2 separate regions of the Homo sapiens genome follow, and region 2 is linked to region 1. Evidence: fine-mapped expression QTL. Tissue or cell type: subcutaneous fat. Region 1 holds a variant in brackets; the other region holds the start of a gene. All regions are shown on one strand. Distances are between the middles of the regions.

Region 1 (8,103 bases):
TAAGCTAAGCTTAATTTATTATTGAAGAAAGAAAAATATTTTGGTATAAATTTGGTCTAGCCTAAAGTGTTTATAAAGTCTACAGTAATGTAGAGTAATGTCCTAGGTCTTCACATTCACTCATTGATTCACCCAGAGCAACCTGCAGTTCTGCAAGCTCCATTCATGGTAAGTGCCTTACATAGGTGTACCACTTTTTATCTTTTATATCTTTTTTTTTTTTGAGACGGAGTTTCACTCTTGTTGCCCAGGCTGGAGTGCAATGGTGTGATCTTGGCTCACCACAACCTCAGCCTCCCCAGTTCAAGCTATTCTCCTGCCTCAGCCTCCCGAGTAGCTGGGATTATAGGCATGAGCCACCACACCCAGCTAATTTTGTAGTTTTAGTAGAGACGGGTTTCTCCATGTTGGTCAGGCTGGTCTCGAACTCCCGACCTTAGGTGTTTCGCCCGCCTTGGCCTCCCAAAGTGCTGGGATTAGAGACATGAGCCACTGCCCTGGCCTAGATCATATTTTTACTGTACCTTTTCCATATTTAGACACACAAATACTTACAATTGCATGCCAATTGCCTGCAGTATTCAGAACAGTAACCTGCTGTACAGGTTTGCAGCCTGGGAGCAACAGGCAATATCATATAGCCTAGGTGTGTAGTAGGCTGTACCATCTAGGTTTGTGTAAGTACACACTATAGCATTCACATAACGAGGAAGTCACCTAACGTTTCTCAGAACGTTGTATCCCTGTTGTTAAGTGGCATGTGACTGTACAGCATAAAGAACCCTTGTTTACAGTATGCGAAACTGAACCAAGAAGGCAGAGTGTCACCTTGTTTGGCTTCATCTGGAAATGTGCATGTTGCTCACAGATTTTTCACCGTCCTGGACATGTCTGCATGTCTGCAAATGACCAGGAAAGTGCCACGAGCATTGATTTTGGGGTTACAAATAAAATGTGATGAGCAGGTGAGTTTGCAAATATGGAACCTACTAATAATGAGGATTGATATATCTTCCCCAGCCCACTGCTCCATCCTTCCTCCAGCCACTGTCCTCTCTTACTTGGAGGAAGCCAGGGGTTGCCTGCCTTCCTTCCTCCTTTCCACCATTGACCCCTGACCCCATCACTCACTTTCCTCTTCACAGCCAGAGACTTGCTTGCTTGCTTCCTTGCTTTCTTTTCTCTCTTTCTTTCTTTCTTTCTTTCTTTCTTTCTTTCTGCCTTTCTTTCTTTCTTTCTTTCATTTCTTTCTTTCTTTCTTTCCTTCTTTCTTTCTTTCCTTCCTTCCTCCCTCCCTCCCTCCCTCCCTCCTTTCTTTCTTTCTTTGTCTCTCTCTTTCTTTTCTTTTTTTTTTTTTCCCAAGATCTTGCTTTGTCGCCCAGGCTGGAGTACAGTAGCATAATCTCGGCTCACTGCAACTTCCTCTGCCTCCCAGATTCAAGCAATTCTCTTGCCTCAACCTCCCGAGTAGCTGGGATTACAGGCGTGTGCCACCACACCCGGCTACTTTTTGTATTTTTAGTAGAGACAGGTTTTCATCATCTTGGCCAGGCAGGTCTCGAACTCCTGACCTCTGGTGATCCACCCGCCTCGGCCTCCCAAAATGCTGGGATTATTTGGGAGCACTTTGGCCTCCCAAAGTGCTGGGGTGGCATGAGCCACTGCGCCCGGCACAAGATTCCTCTCTCTAAAAGATGAAACCTTCTGCTTCTTTTCGGTTCCTCTCGGGACTGAGTCCAAACTGCTCCCAGTGGCCTGTAAGGCCCTCCTTGGCCTGTCCCTGTGGCCCTCTTGGCTAGAATCCCGTGTTCTCTCCCCTCACTTGCTCCTTCCAGCCGTGCTGGTCCCTTCATCCTTTCTCCAGCACACCAAGCCTGTCCCACCTCTGGGCTTTGCACCAGCGGTTCTCATCTCCTCATCCTTCAGGTCTCAGTTTGAAATTCCGCCTGCTCATATAGCTCCCCTTACTACCCCTAAATCATTCCATCTCTTCATCAGAGCCCCTGATGAGTTGCCTGCCTAGTTCATATGGATTCCAATGGAACAATCCTTCATGGCATTACTTGACGAGTGTTGCCATTGGACTGTAACGTCTTTAAGGCAAGTCGGTGTTGGATTTATTCACCTGTGGGTCTTGAGGTCTGGAGCAGCATCTCACACAGTAGGGTTCCATACAGACTTGTTGCTAAGTGTGTGAGCAACCCACAGCTGGAGTGGCCTGTTGGACTTCACTCCTTCAGCCCCATGGAAGCAGGAGCCTGTGTGCGTGGCCCAGGTCAGGAGAGCCACCACTCATCCTCCTTCACGAGGCTGCGTGTGCCTCCTGCAGGTGCCACTCCCACCGGGCTTGGCATCATCCCTGTGAGCTGCACATCACATGCCTTCTCCAGGCCCCCAGGAGGCGTGTATCTGATCAGAAATACTTGATAGCCAAGGCCTTTCCAGCCCCAGGGTCTTCTGGCCTTGCCTCAGAAACCAACCACCTCCCTGCAGGAAAATGCACCATTCTTAAATTTAGAACCCACAGGGCCTTGTGATCCCAAATAGCACATCCTTATAATCTTGAAACCTCAGAAATTCAAGGGCTCCCCTAAGGGAACTGACCACCCTTCTGGTCCTCTGAAAACCCCTTCTGGTAAGCACTACATTTTTGTAATTACAAAATAGCAGGATTTCAGGGTCCACCCAAGGACCTGACCACACTTCCAAGACCCGCTTTTGGGTAAACACCACATCCTTATGTTTACCAGGCCACGGACCCTCAAGGGCCCCACCCAGGAAGAGGGTCCCCTTGTTGGCCTGAGCTGCACTTTGGGTAAATGCCACATTCTTGGGAAGATCGTGTTCATGTAGCAACACAAAGAGATGTTTTTGGTATTATAGGGAATTTGAAATAAAAACAGGAAAGAAAACAAAATATCCTCATTGCCTATACCCTTGTCTGTAATTACAGGAAGACTTGGCCTACGCCCTGCCGAGTATGCAGAAATAGAATCAGTCCCAGAGGCATGATGGGTGATCCTG[C/T]TTTCTCTACTTCCTAAACTTTCTGTAATAGTGCTGCCTTTATGATAAAAACTGTGACAACAAAGAAAAAACAAGCTTTGTTCTCCCTGTGGAGTGATGAGGATGATTTATCAGAGTTTAACAGCCAAGTTACCTCTCTGCCCCAGGCCTGCTAACCTTCTGGAAAATCACTGAGATTGATCATCATTACCAAAATTCATGCCCCAGGTCCCAGAGTGGTGTGTGTTTACCCTGCATGTTATGGCTGAGGGCAAGGGTGGGTGCTTGGGTGAGAGAGGTATATCTATCTTGGAAGGGCACGCTACAATTAGGCAATTATGGTCTATTTCATAGCAGATGATGATGTCAGCCCTAGAAAAGGTTGCTGCCTGTTCTCTGGGGAGGCCCCATCACCCAGCAGCAACTGGAAGTGGGGAAGAGGGCTGCTCCCTAAGAGTGTATGAGGATGCTATTCCTGCGTTCAGGATCCAGGAGGTCTGAGCCCGGGCCCAGGGAGGGAGGCCCTAGAGCAGTGGTTCCCAACTGGAGTGATTCTCCTGTGCCCCCACCCCCAGGGACATTTGGTAATATCTAGAGACATTTTTGGTCCTCACAGCTGAAAAAGGGTGCCACTGGCATCTGGTGGGTAGAGGTCAAAGATGCTGCTGAACATCCTAAAATGCACGGGACAGACCCTCCACAGCAAAGAATTGTCCTGCTGAAAATGTCAATAGTATGCAGTGGAGAAATCCCAGCCTAGATTAAGGGAGGGCTTTGTCTCAACAAGTCAGGGTTTCAGGCAGCTGTTAAGGTCCTGATACAGAAGTGGGCCCAGCACCCATGGACGTGCTGCTGTCACAGCTGACACTGAGGAAGAAGGGAGCTGGAGAGGTCTCTTTGAAGGTGGTTCTACTTAAGGCTTCAGGGGCCCAGGCTTGTTAGGGCCTCCTAGTTTTGAATGACTCCCTTCACTCCATCCCCACCTCACCAGAGGGACCACGTGCCAGCCTCTGATTGTGCCAGCAGTTTCATCCTCTGTGCTTTTTGCATGCTGTTCCCCTGCTTTTCCCTTCCCCTATTTCTGACTATTAAAATTGAACCCATCCTTCCAGGTTTTGATACTACTTCCTCCATAAAGACTACCCTGATTTCCTCTACCTGCATCAATATCAGTAACTTCCTTTCCTTCATAGGATTGAGGTAGGGAATCACCTCCAAACTGGAGGAGAGGTGTGATGTTTATGATAAACGGCAATAACAGGACACCAGCCCGGTTGTATCCGAAGCCAAAGTCTGTGATTTTACCCATAGTATCTTCCTCGCCCCACAGCTAAGAGCACTGTACATTAATGATAATAACCAAATAATCATCACAAGTGAATATGGTAATAATAGCTAACAATTAGCAGGTACTGCATTCCAGGTACCGTGCTAAGTATTCTACAGGTATCTACGTATCCACTGTTGTCAACAACTTACTGGTCAGGACACTGGGGCTTCCAGGGAGAATGACTGTCCTGAGGTTCCCAGTCACTCTGACTCCTACATCCCTGGCCTACCGACTTTCCAGAAGCTGTCTATCCCATGTCAAGAACTCTGTGCCTGCAGCCAGGCCCCTGCCCCAGAAGTCCTTCACAAATTGCCTTGGACACACCATTGTGCCCCTGGCATGCCCAGTGTCACCCCCACAGGCTGAGCTCAGCTGATCTCTAATAAGCATCTCTGGGAGACAAAGGCAGCTGGAGCTCCTTGTTCAGGGCCCTGTTTGGGGGACAAAGACATGAGCTGATGCATTCTCTGTTCTCTTGTGCTAAATAATTGGCTTCAATTAAGTGGGCTGGCTGAAGTGAGGCGCCTGGAGGAGCAGGAATGTGGAACTTATGCAAATGGAGGTCTGAGGATGGGGAGCCAGGAGGAGGGGCTCCCAGGGGCCCCCAGGGATCCACCCTCCCCCCTGTACCCTGGGAAAGGGTCTTATCCTCTCTTGGTTCAGTTTCCTCCTCTGTAGAATGGAGAGAGGAAAGGAATTTCTGTCTGGGTTTCAAAGCCCTGGGGGTCCACAGAAGTCTGGGGTGGGCCAGGACCCAGGACAGACCCTTACAGAGTTCAGCTAGAATAGCTCCTTTCCTCTTTACCTGTTTAATGTGTTGGGCTGTTACCACCTGCTTTTTGTCCAGGGAATGTGAACATCAAAAAAGAGCTTAAAACCTCAAGACAGATTATATTTGGGCTCCATCCCAGCTCTAGTACTTTTCAAATCTCGCCTTGAGGTTTTGGGGTCTGATATGGTTTGGCTCTGTGCCCCTACCCAAATCTCATGTCAAATCGTAATTCCCAGTGTTGGGGCGGTGGGACCTGGTGGGAGGTGATTGGATCATGGGGGCAGATTTCCCCCATGCTGTTCTCGTGATAGTGAGTGAATTCTCACGAGATCTGGTGGTTTAAAAGTGTGTGGCACTTCCCCCCTCACTCTCTCTCTCTCCTGCCTGCCACCATGGGAAGAAGGTCCTTGCTTCCCTTTCTTCTTCTGCCATGACTGTAAGTTTCCTGAGGCCTCCCAGTCATGCGTCCTGTTAAGCCTGTGGAACTGTGAGTCAATTAAACCTCTTTTCTTTTATATATATATATAATATATATATTTTATTATGCTTTAAGTTCTAGGGTACATGTGCACAATGTGCAGGTTTGTTACATATGTATACATGTGCCATGTTGGTGTACCTCTTTTCTTCATAAATTACTCAGTCTCAGATCGTTCTTTATAGCTGTGTGAGAACAGACTAATACAGGGTCTTAGAGGAGAGGGGTGGCCCACCTGTCAGTGGGGAGAGGGAGTTGGTCCAGGTGGGTCTGATTGGCTCTGGCCATGCTCTGTGACCTTGAGCCAGGCCTTGGGTCTCTGAGCCCTGCTTTCTCCATCTGTGAAAAAGGAAATGATGACAATGGCAGCAGTGACAATCACATAACTGCCGACTTCTACCATGTGGCATCCACGTGCCCCAGGCTGAGCGCCTTATCTGAGCTCTATCATTTAAGCCAAAACCCTACGAGGCAGCTTGTCCATGCTCACTGATGGTTCTTTACCAGCTATTGAGCACTCCCTGTGTTCTTGGTGTGATGATTAAAAGAAACAACACGCACAATCCCTGCACTCATGGAGCTGACATTCTAGGGTGGAAACCAGCAATAAAAGCAATAACTATGCATCACAGAGGGAGATCCAGCTAGGCAGGGGTCTACTGAGTGTCGAGGTTGGGGTGGAATTTGCAGTCGGGAGGCAGTGAGACTGGAGCCCAGGTCTGGAGGAAGATGGCAGGCCGGGGAGCTGTGTGACACGGAGTGAAGTGCCCAGTGGAGGGACAGCCCCTGCAGAGCCTGTAAGGTGGGGTGTGCCCTCCAGGGGTGTTTGAAGAGCAGCCAGGGGATCAGTGTGACGATAGGGAGGGAACAGAGTGAGCGAGCGGGAGAGAAACAGAGGATGAGTCAGAGGTCCCAGGAGGTGAGCATGGAGGGCCCTGTGGATCAGGGCAGGGACCTGCGCATTTGCCTTGAGTGCAATGGAGCACCTTGGGGTAGTGAGGAGGTCCTTGGGACAGAAAAGCTACAAGCAGGGAGGCTCTGGAAGGAGGAGGGGAGGAAAAGAGAGATGTCAGCAGATTAGGGACACATTCTGATGTGAAATGCCCATTAGAATGGAATAGAATGGATTTTTTTTTTTTTTTTTTTTTTTTTTTTTTTTGAGATAAAGTCTTGCTCTGTTACCCGGGCTGGAGTGCAGTGGCACAATCTCAGCTCACTGCAACTTCCGCCTCCCAGGTTCAAGCGATTCTCCTGCCTCAGCCTCCTGAGTAGCTGGGATTACAGGTGTGTGCCACCACCCCCGGCTAATTTTTTTTTGTATTTTTAGTACAGTCGGGGTTTCACCATGTTGGTCAGGCTGGTCTCGAACTCCTGACCTCATGATCCGCCCAACTCGGCCTCCCAAAGTGCAGATGTCTACTATGCTGAGGGACAGGAGGGGACATCAGAGGAAGAAAGTTGCCAAGAGTCACTCCAGGTGTTGGACTGAGCGGCTGAAAGTGGGGGCTATTTCTTTCCATTTGTTGAGATGGGAAACACCGAGATGATGGCTGTGGAGGCATTGGATGTTAGGTGCCCATTAGTCATGGAAGTGGAGATCTCAGTAGGCTTGTAGGTCAGAGGGAAGGTCTGGGCTCGTATCCTCCCATGCATAAGCTGTATTTGCATTTGTGATCCCCGGGGATGTGAGTGCAGACAGCAGAGAAGCCCACGGAGCCCTGGGACCTCGGCGTTAGAAGCCAGCAGGTGAGGTGGAATCAACAGAGGATGGGGTGATCTGTCAGCCAGCAGGCCAGAGGAAAACCAGGAATGTAGAGTCCCCATGACAGGAGTAGGCGGGGGCTGCAGGGGCAACCAACTGGTGATCAGAGCCAGGGAGATGAAGCCGGCGAAATGACAGTGGATTTAGCAACATGGACCACTGGTGACCCTGACGAGAGTGTTTTTGTGGAATCGTGGGGACAAAATCCTCCTGAAGTAGGTTCGAGAGGGAACAGGAGGCGAGGAAATGGAGGCCGCCTGCTTCCCAGATGCCACCTGGCAACTCTTCAAGGAATTTTCCTATAAAGGGCACAGGGAAAGATCGGTGTGTCAGGGGAGCTGACCTGAGGAAGGTTTTCTGGTTATTCCCCAGTTTTAAGATGGGCACAATTAGAACAGGTTTGTATGCTGTGGAGGGTGATCCAGGATGGAGGAAGAATTCAATGCAGGAGGAAGAATTCAATGCAGGAGGGAGAGAGGAAAAAACCCTGGAGTGGGTGTGAGGGGCTGGCATGTAAGGCTCAAATGAAGGGCTGTCCTTGAGTAGGCTACAGAAGAAGAGACTGAGGCCAGAGAGGTGAAGTGCCCAAGGTCCCACAGGTAACCAGGGCAGAACGGGGATTGAATCCAAAACTCTGACACCAGAGTGCAATTCTGTCCCCCCTGAGATGCTAAGGCCTTGCCTCCCTGCTCAGGGATGGGCCCTGAGGCTAAGCCAGGATGTCAGCAAAGGCCCCTGGGGCTCCTCAGGATGGGGGC
Region 2 (8,103 bases), 110 kb after region 1:
CCATTTCCACATGTCCATTCATTAATTGAGTCAATGAACATTCATTGAGAACTGACTGTGAGCTCCGGACTCACATGTACTATCTCACTTAACCCCCCAGGTACCCTATGCATCATCATGATTTTCTTCTTTCCATTTGGCAGATGAACACGCTGAGGCTCAGAGACACTGAGTTACTTGCCTAAGGCCACAGAGCCGGTTAGAAGAGGACTAGGACCTTGAACCTAAATCCAGGATGGTTCTAGTGGCTAAATCCCACTCTCATACTGCCTCCTTGAGCCCTCCCCCACAGGAAGCAGGAAAGGGCTGGCCATGGTCTTCTGGTCCCCTAGCTGTCATACACTTTCTTTGGGGAGATCTGAGCCTCATTTCTTCCACCCCCATCCTGATCAGTTCTCTCTCCCACAGATAAGAAACTGCTTGACATTTCCTGGTCCTGGTGTAGCAACAGAGGTGGTGGGGATGAGTCACTGGAGGGAAGCAGCTGGCAGTTGTGTGGGGTCGGGGAAGGAGGGCTGGTCAGTGCTCACTCTGGAGGGGTGGGGGCAGGAAGCACTGGGGAGGCCTGCCTGGGAGTTCCTGAGCTCCCAGCTGCTCCTTCCAGTCCCCAAAGCTATGTGTAACAGAGTTCTCCTCACCAGGCAGGTTCACAGAGAACGAAGCTCTGGAGGAAATGAGAGGAAACCAGGAAGGGGAACCAGAAGCAGTTGTGAAAGCCCAGCTCTCTGCCTCAGTCCTTGTGTTGTGGGATGGCGGCTCCTTCTCTCTGGGTTTTGTGCCAGCTTCAATGAACCCTGGCTAGACAACTCTCACCCCAGAGCTCCCTGTTCCAGTTGAGAATGCACCAGCACTCCTGAGGCCCTCTCCCTCCGCTCCTCCCAGGCTGCCGCATAATAACACCAGTGGCACTGATTGATAACTGTCGATGTGCCTGCCCCATGTTAAGGGCTTCACGTGCAGCCTCTCTGCTAAACCTCCAATAACTCCCACCAGGTAGGCCCTGTTATTATCACCATTTTACAGATGAGCAAACTGAGGCCTAGAGAAGTGAAATCACTGGCCCATGGTCCCATAACCAGGACTTGAACCCAGATCTGTCAGGTCCAAAATCCCTGGGCTCAACCACAACAGGTCTCTGACAACATCATGTTCCTCCACACGTGCCCATCAGTGCTGAAACCTTTCCCCTGGCCCCAACCCCAAAGACTAGGCCCAACCCCCGCTCCGCAGGCCTCTCTCCTGCAGTCCCAGGTGATAACAGTAGTCTCACTCCAAGCATCTTTGAAATCCAATTACATCCCCATTCTTCCTCGTCCATAGTGGTTTCTGGCTGCAGACACTGGCAATCCCTGTGCCCACCACACCTTCCTGCAGGGGCACAAACACAGACACACAGGCGCACTCTTAAGTGCTCACTCACACCTGGCCACCAAGGAGGTGTTGCTGCCCCTGCTTGTGGAGGGCGACCAGGGCAGATGGAGCCCCTGCTGCTCCCAGGTTCCTGTGGGAGTCTGGAGGAGTGACCCTCCCACCCCTGCAACAGCCGCTGGCTGCTTCCTGGCTCCATCCCCAACCCCACTCCCATCCCCACCCCCCTGGGGCCTTGAGAGGAACACTTCACCAAGGTAAGAATCACAATAATAATGTCAATAATAGGAATCAGCATTTCCAGTTTGCAAACCTTTTTCATCGAATCACCTCACTTGACTCTCACAAGTTCTATGAGGCAGATATTTTTATATCCGTGCAGGCGAGGGTCGTATAGCTACTTAGGAGCAGAGCCAAGGTCCTAGCCGACTTATCTCACTCTCACCTAGAATAATGATGACTCCTCATTGTTACCGTGCACCAAGCATCTATTCTTGCCTGTCGTTAGGGGCACACTTAATGAATGTCAATGTTACTCCTCACAGCAGCCCAGTGAGGTGAGTTTTTTTTTTATGCCCAGTGTAAAGATCAGGTAACTCAGAAGAGTTGAGGGCAGAATGGCTGCCTAAGGGATGTTTCTGAACTGGACACATCACTTTAGAAAAGTATATAGGGGCCGGGCGCGGTGGCTCACGCCTGTAATCCCCGCACTTTGGGAGGCCGAGGCGGGCGGATCATGAGGTCAGGAGATCGAGACTATCCTGACTAACATGGTGAAACCCCGACTCTACTAAAAATACAAAAAATTAGCCGGGTGTGGTCGTGGGTGCCTGTAGTCCCAGCTACTCGGGAGGCTGAGGCAGGAGAATGGCATGGACCCAGGAGGCGGAGCTTGCAGTGAGCCGAGATCACGCCACTGCACTCCAGCCTGGGCGACAGAACGAGACTCCATCTCAAAATAAATAAATAAGTAAATAAATAAATGAAAAGTATATAGGGAGGAAGACAATAAGAGCCTCTAATGGGTGCTTTCTGGAGAGCGGATGCAGGGGGTTATGGATAGAGCCAGCTGCTTCTCCCCTGGTCCCCCTCCAAGCACTTTGCCTGTTATCTTGAGCGGTTACTGTTGCTGCTGTTGACTATCTGTGCAGTCATCTACAAGGGGGCTGTGAACTCTCCAAGGACAGGGACACTGTCCTGTTCACCCCTGGGGCCCCAGCACATAGCACCTTGCCTGGCATAAGGGTGAGGCACTGTCAGGATGGCCTCGTTCACAAAGGATGGTGGGGCAGCCTTGGCCCAGCCTGAGCTCCCAGCCTCCCCAGCTTCCCCGTTGATAAGGAGACTGAGAGAATACAGACACCCAGAGGGCAAAGGTTATCCACTCCAAATACCACTTAAGGTGGGAATTCTTCCTCTGCTGTCCTCATCAACCCTTCCCTGGATTCTGCTTGCATGCTGCTAGTGACAGGGCACTCATTCATGACAACTAAGGCAGCCTCTTCCATGTTGGAAAACTTGGAGTGATTGTGACAAAGGCCTCCCACTGATGTATGATCAGGCTGGCTGGGATTACAAGCACAGACCCTGCTGCTAGTCTTTAGGGTTACACCAAGCAGAGCACTGGCAGGTGTCCCCAAGTCTGGGAGGACATTGCACATGAATGACGCTGGGGGCCCTCCCTTCAGCAATCCAGAGCCCTGAGTGCCAGAAAGGCAGAAGAGGGAGTGACAAATGAATTCATCAACCCAGCTTGGCCCAGCTCTGTAAAGGCAGTGAGGTGAGACTGAGTTGTTGCAGAAATTACTATAGAGCCTTGAGTCAGATGGCTCCACCCAACACACCTTAAAAATAATCCTCATCTAGAGTCACATACTTTGATTGATTGATTGATTCATTCATTATTGGCTATCACTGTCTAGGTGTTTGGCTGGGGGCAGTGTCAGTGGCACTGGGGCATCAGAGTTTATCTACCTTAGTAATCAGGACAGTTTATATTCACTGAGCACTTACTATGAACCAAGGACTGTTCTGTTTACTTCCTTGCCAAGGGCACAGACTCTCCTGCCCAATCCCAGCTCTGGTGAGGACAGTGGGAGCCTGCATGGCACAGAGTCCATGCACAGTAAACATGAGCAGCTCCTATTAACTCTAAATCTCTACAGCAACCATAGCCGGTTCTTACTATTGGTTGCTCTAGGTGACTTACTTTGTCCAAGGCCACACAGGCACTAAAAGGCAGAGTCAGGATTTGAACCTAGGTGATCTGGTTCCAGAGCCTGCTCTATTAACCGTTAAGGAACTGGTGCAGACAGAACCGAGACCTGGAGTCAGAATGCCCACCTAGCTAGATGCCTGAGGCAGCCACTCACCTCTTTCTGTCTTATTTACTTGTGAAATGGAGCATGTCATCAGCCTTGCCTTCCTTTTCCCGCAGCCCCCCACCCCGGTTCCTGGCCCACTGTGACCATCAGATCAGATGAAAGAGATCCAGGCATTTCTCTAAGGAGAGCACAGGGTGGTGGGGGTTGGGGTGGGAGAGAGCACATTATTTTCCCACCATAAGGGGTTGAAGGAGCCCAGAATTTGGGGGTGGGGCCTTGTCTGTAGGAGCCTGGTTCTCTCAGGTTGACACGCCACCAGAGAGCCTCCATGACCCCCAACCCTCATCCTCACCCCAGCCCCCCATAGGATGTGTAGAGACAAAAGGTTTGACAACTGTAGCGCCAACAAGCGTCCTAGAGCCCCAGATAAGATCCTAGCCTCCTGACAGCGCAACTGACAGCAGCATCTCTGAGGCTGGATTTTAGGGTGGAGTATGAAGAAGGTGGCCGTAGTGACAGTGGGGTCATGTTATTTGGCCAAGTCACACCAAGCAGGGAGAGAGAAGGGTGGGCCTAGGCTGGAAGCCTGAAGGCTGAGTGAACTCAAACTTTAACGACCATGGCCTGTAAAATGGGACTAAGCACAGCGCCCTTATGGGTTGCTGTGAAAATCAAATGAGTTAATACTTGTAACTCCTTTAGCATATGGTGTCTGGCATCAGAGAGTGCGCAGCAAACGGTGACTATTGTCGTGACTGTGTTATTACACACTTGGGTATCACCGCCAGCCAAAGCAGTCCCTTCCATTTCAGGCACCGGCCTGGGCCCGGGAGACACCGCAAGGCTATTTAAGATGGTGTGGTTTGCCCATCTACGTTGATCGTCCCAAGAAAGGGGCACCGTCTGCAGAACTTGCCAGGAAAGTCATCCTGGGCGGCGCGGGCCACGCCAGGGTCTCCCCGCGCGGCTTCCTCCCCCGGCGCCTTCTCTCGGGCGCGCGTGCGCCCCCTGCAGGCGGCCCCCGGGAGAGCCTCGCGGGGGAGCCGGGAGCCTGGTTTCCCCGCCAACCCCCATCCCGCCCGCCCCGGCGGCCACCCTGGGGGCGAGGCAGCCCGGCGCGTGGGAGGGGACGGCGCGCCATTGGCTTGTGCGCGGAACCGAGAGGAGGGACCAGCGCGGGCCGCCAGACTCGGTAAGCCCCGGCCGCGCAGGGCGCCGCGCGCAGTCCAGCCGGCCCGGCCCTGCCCTGCCCTGCCCTGTCCTGCCCTGCCCTGCCCTGCCCTGCCCTGCACTGCCCGGCCCGGCACGGGCGGCGCGATGTGAGGCGTCCGAGCCCGGAGCCTCCGCCTGGCATCAGCTCCACGTAGCCCAGCGCCGGCACGCGCGAGGCCCGTAAGTTCTGCTCCCCGCCGCCGCTTCCGAGCCGCGGACTTTCCCCTCCCGCCGCCCGCCGCCTGCGCAGCGCAACCCAGCGGGGCTCCTGCGGCCGACGGGACCGCAGAGGGGCGGCCGGGACCCCGCGCGCGCTAACCGGGCGCCCCGGGACATCTCGGCACCCGCTGAGCCCGCTGGGACCCCAGGGGGTCGCCTCCCCAGCTCCCCAAGGCGCCGTCCCGCAGCCCCTTCCGTCTCCCCTGCGCGCTCTCCCCTCGCCGCCCCTCCCTCTGACTCGGTTTCCCCTCTCCCCCGGCTCCGCGGTCGCCCTCCTCCTGGACTGCTTATTTCGTCCTCGGCCACTGCCTCTCGGGCTCGAGCTTTCTGCTTCAGAGCAGGAGAGAAACGGAGCGAAAGCAGTTTCTGTCTCCCCGGGGTCTGACTCGGTCCCCCGCGCTCGGTTCTCTGTCCCCTCCCCCTCCCGCCATTGTTCCCGGCAGGAGGAGTGCGCGGCGCAAACTTGCGAGTTCCCCCAGTCTTTGCCCCCGCAGGGCCGCGGACGGAGGTGGTGGCGGAGTTCCCGCTGCCCACAAGTCTGGCCCGACCTTCTGGGGTGGGGGCCTGGGGGCAGGGGCCCTGGGCCGGAGAACCCGGGGCCGCCTAACGGCTCGGAGCTCACCGCCGGGGGACACCGGCGCTGAGGCCTGGGTCTCAGAAAGTGGGTGAGTGTCTGGAGCGGGGACATCAGGGACAGATTGCAGGGGGAGGGGCGAGGCTGAGAGAGTCCCCCGTCCCCAGGCTGGAAAGGGGCGGGCAGAAACCCAGGCCGCGCCTTAGCCCAGTTAGGGGGTGGGTAGGGGACGCACAGGTGGAGACGCCCCCCACTCTCCCCAAAGTCGCGCGATCTGCAGGAAGGGTACAGTGTGGGGCCACTGGCCGGGCGCTGGGTGGGTTAGGGCCCCTGCCGTGGGCAGAACACTCGCACCTACCCGGGGGAGGCTGTGTGGAGGAAGGGCCAGAACGCCGCGCCCACCCCGGCGCGCCCCGCTGGGCGGGGCGGGGCGGGGCGCTCGCCTTGGGTCCCCTCGCTCTACCTTCCTTCGCCCTGACCCAGTCTCGGGCTTCCGCCTCTTCCTGGAGCCCGGGGGGAGTGGGTTTCTCCGCCGGAGAGATGGAGGCTGGGGCAAGAGCAGCGCGGAGGCCAAGAACCCCCAGGCTCCTCCAAAGCCCAGAGCGGCTGGCCAAGGCCCCCTCACCGCCCCACTACCCTGCACTTCCTGATTGGTTTCTTTCAAACAAACTTCTTGACGGGGCGGGCCTGCGGGGAGAAGTCACCGGGGCTGCCCACCCCAACTATGTGGTCCCTTGGACCTCCACCCCTGACGGCCTGTGGAGAGGGGACCAGGATCTGCGGCCCGCAGATCCCAGGGACGCGGGGGTCGTTTTGTTGCAGAGCCAGGAGGGGGCACTGTCCGCTCCTTAGCCTCAGCCCCAGACTTCGAGAAAGGAGAGAAAAGATTTTTCTTGTTGGGTTGTTAGGAAATAAGACTATTCTCCAGGCTTCTGTTGTCCCATCTGTAAAATGGGTCGTCTTGTTCCTGAGGCCCCCTCTGTCCCCACCATCCCAGGAGGCCCCTGCCATGGCCGCTTCTTTCCCAGTCACATGTCGTCAACTTCCTCCGTGCTTCCAAATTTGGAGTGGAGGGCTAAGGCCGAAAGCCCCTTCACCCATGTCCAGCTGTCATGACCTGCCAGTTCTAGGACTGCGACCTATTTTCTGCACAGCTCTGCCTCCAGGCCCCTTGTGGCTTCTCCAGCTCACACCCAGCCTCCCAATTTCTTTTGATAGCCCCACCTCTGTGGGAAGAAGGGCCTGCCCCTCTTGGGGTATGGGGGAGGAGGGGGCTGGATTTAACAGGAATGCCCCATAGTCACACAGTTTGGGGCTGTTCTTTACTTTTGCTTATTGAACAAAATGTTTGTGAGCATTACACCAAAAATGGCTTATGGAGCAAAGTGCCAGGGACAGTTTCAGGCACTGGGGAGACAGCTGTGGACAAAATAAAAATTTTTGTCCTCATGGAGCTGATGCTTAAAAGCAGGGGGCAGGGGGAGGCAATTCCCTAATAAAAACAATAAGCAAATTATATAGTGTACTGAGAGGTGAAGGGGAAAAGTTGTGTTGGGGGTATTGAGGCCAGGGACCGGGTTGTCATTTTAAATAGGGTGTCAGGGAGGTCTCCCTGAGGAGGTAACTTTTGAGCTACAGCCTTGAGGGAGATGAGGGAGTGAGCTGTGTAGACAGCTAGAGCACAGCCCATGCAAAGGCCCTGAGGCTGGAATGTGCCTACCCTGCAGCTAGCAGGGAGTGAGGGGCTGAGGAAGAGTGAGTGACTGAGAAGGGATGAATTCCTCCCCTTTCACAGGTGAGGGAAGTGAGGCTCAGAGACAGTATGTCAGTCACCCCAGGACACACAGGCCAGGAGAGGCAGCTGCAGGGCGGGGTGCCTGATGTTCTGACTCCTGGTCCACGATACCTCCCCGGCACCCTGTGTCTCACTGTTTATCCTGCTACACTGGCTGGACCCCTCCCAGGGCCAGCGCAGCATCGTCCTCCTGCCCCAAAGTGACCCTTGCTCTCTCTCATCCCACTTCCTTCCTATGACCAGTCCCTTCTGAGCACCCAACTCTGACCTGGCACATGATCCCTAGAAGGGGACCTGCTCTGAGGCAGATTTGGTCAAGGGGGCAACTGAGGCAAGGAAGTAGAGTCTTCTAGTCTAAAAATAATGAGCAGCATTATTATTGAACATTAACTACAAAACAGGCGCTGTTCTGGATTTTTTTGGTGCATCTTCTCACTGGTGAGAGGTTGGTGTCATTATTACACCCCATTTAACAGATGAGGAAACTGAGGCCCAGGGAGGCAGAGTCACTGGCCCAAAGGCATACAGCTCATCAGTGGTAGAGCCAGGATGGAGCACAAGCCTTTTAAGTCATGAGCTAGTCCTTTAACCACTAAGCCAGCACCCCAGGA

The links. PIP is the estimated chance that this variant, and not a neighbour inherited with it, causes the effect.
Region 2: TP53I11 starts here. The variant in region 1 is fine-mapped to the expression of TP53I11 in subcutaneous fat (TwinsUK, PIP 0.95).

What each region holds. Positions count from the first base shown.
Region 1 is chr11:45,053,424-45,061,526 of GRCh38, reverse strand. No RefSeq gene overlaps it. Among named protein-coding and RNA genes, the nearest start is that of LINC02685, 84 kb to the right of the region's middle. The variant C/T (reference allele first, on the strand shown) is at 3,025.
Region 2 is chr11:44,947,658-44,955,760 of GRCh38, reverse strand. It overlaps TP53I11 (tumor protein p53 inducible protein 11), which reads left to right and starts at 4,878. Exons shown (of 7, transcript NM_006034.5): 1 at 4,878-5,084. RefSeq lists silencers at 4,689-4,948, 4,979-5,108.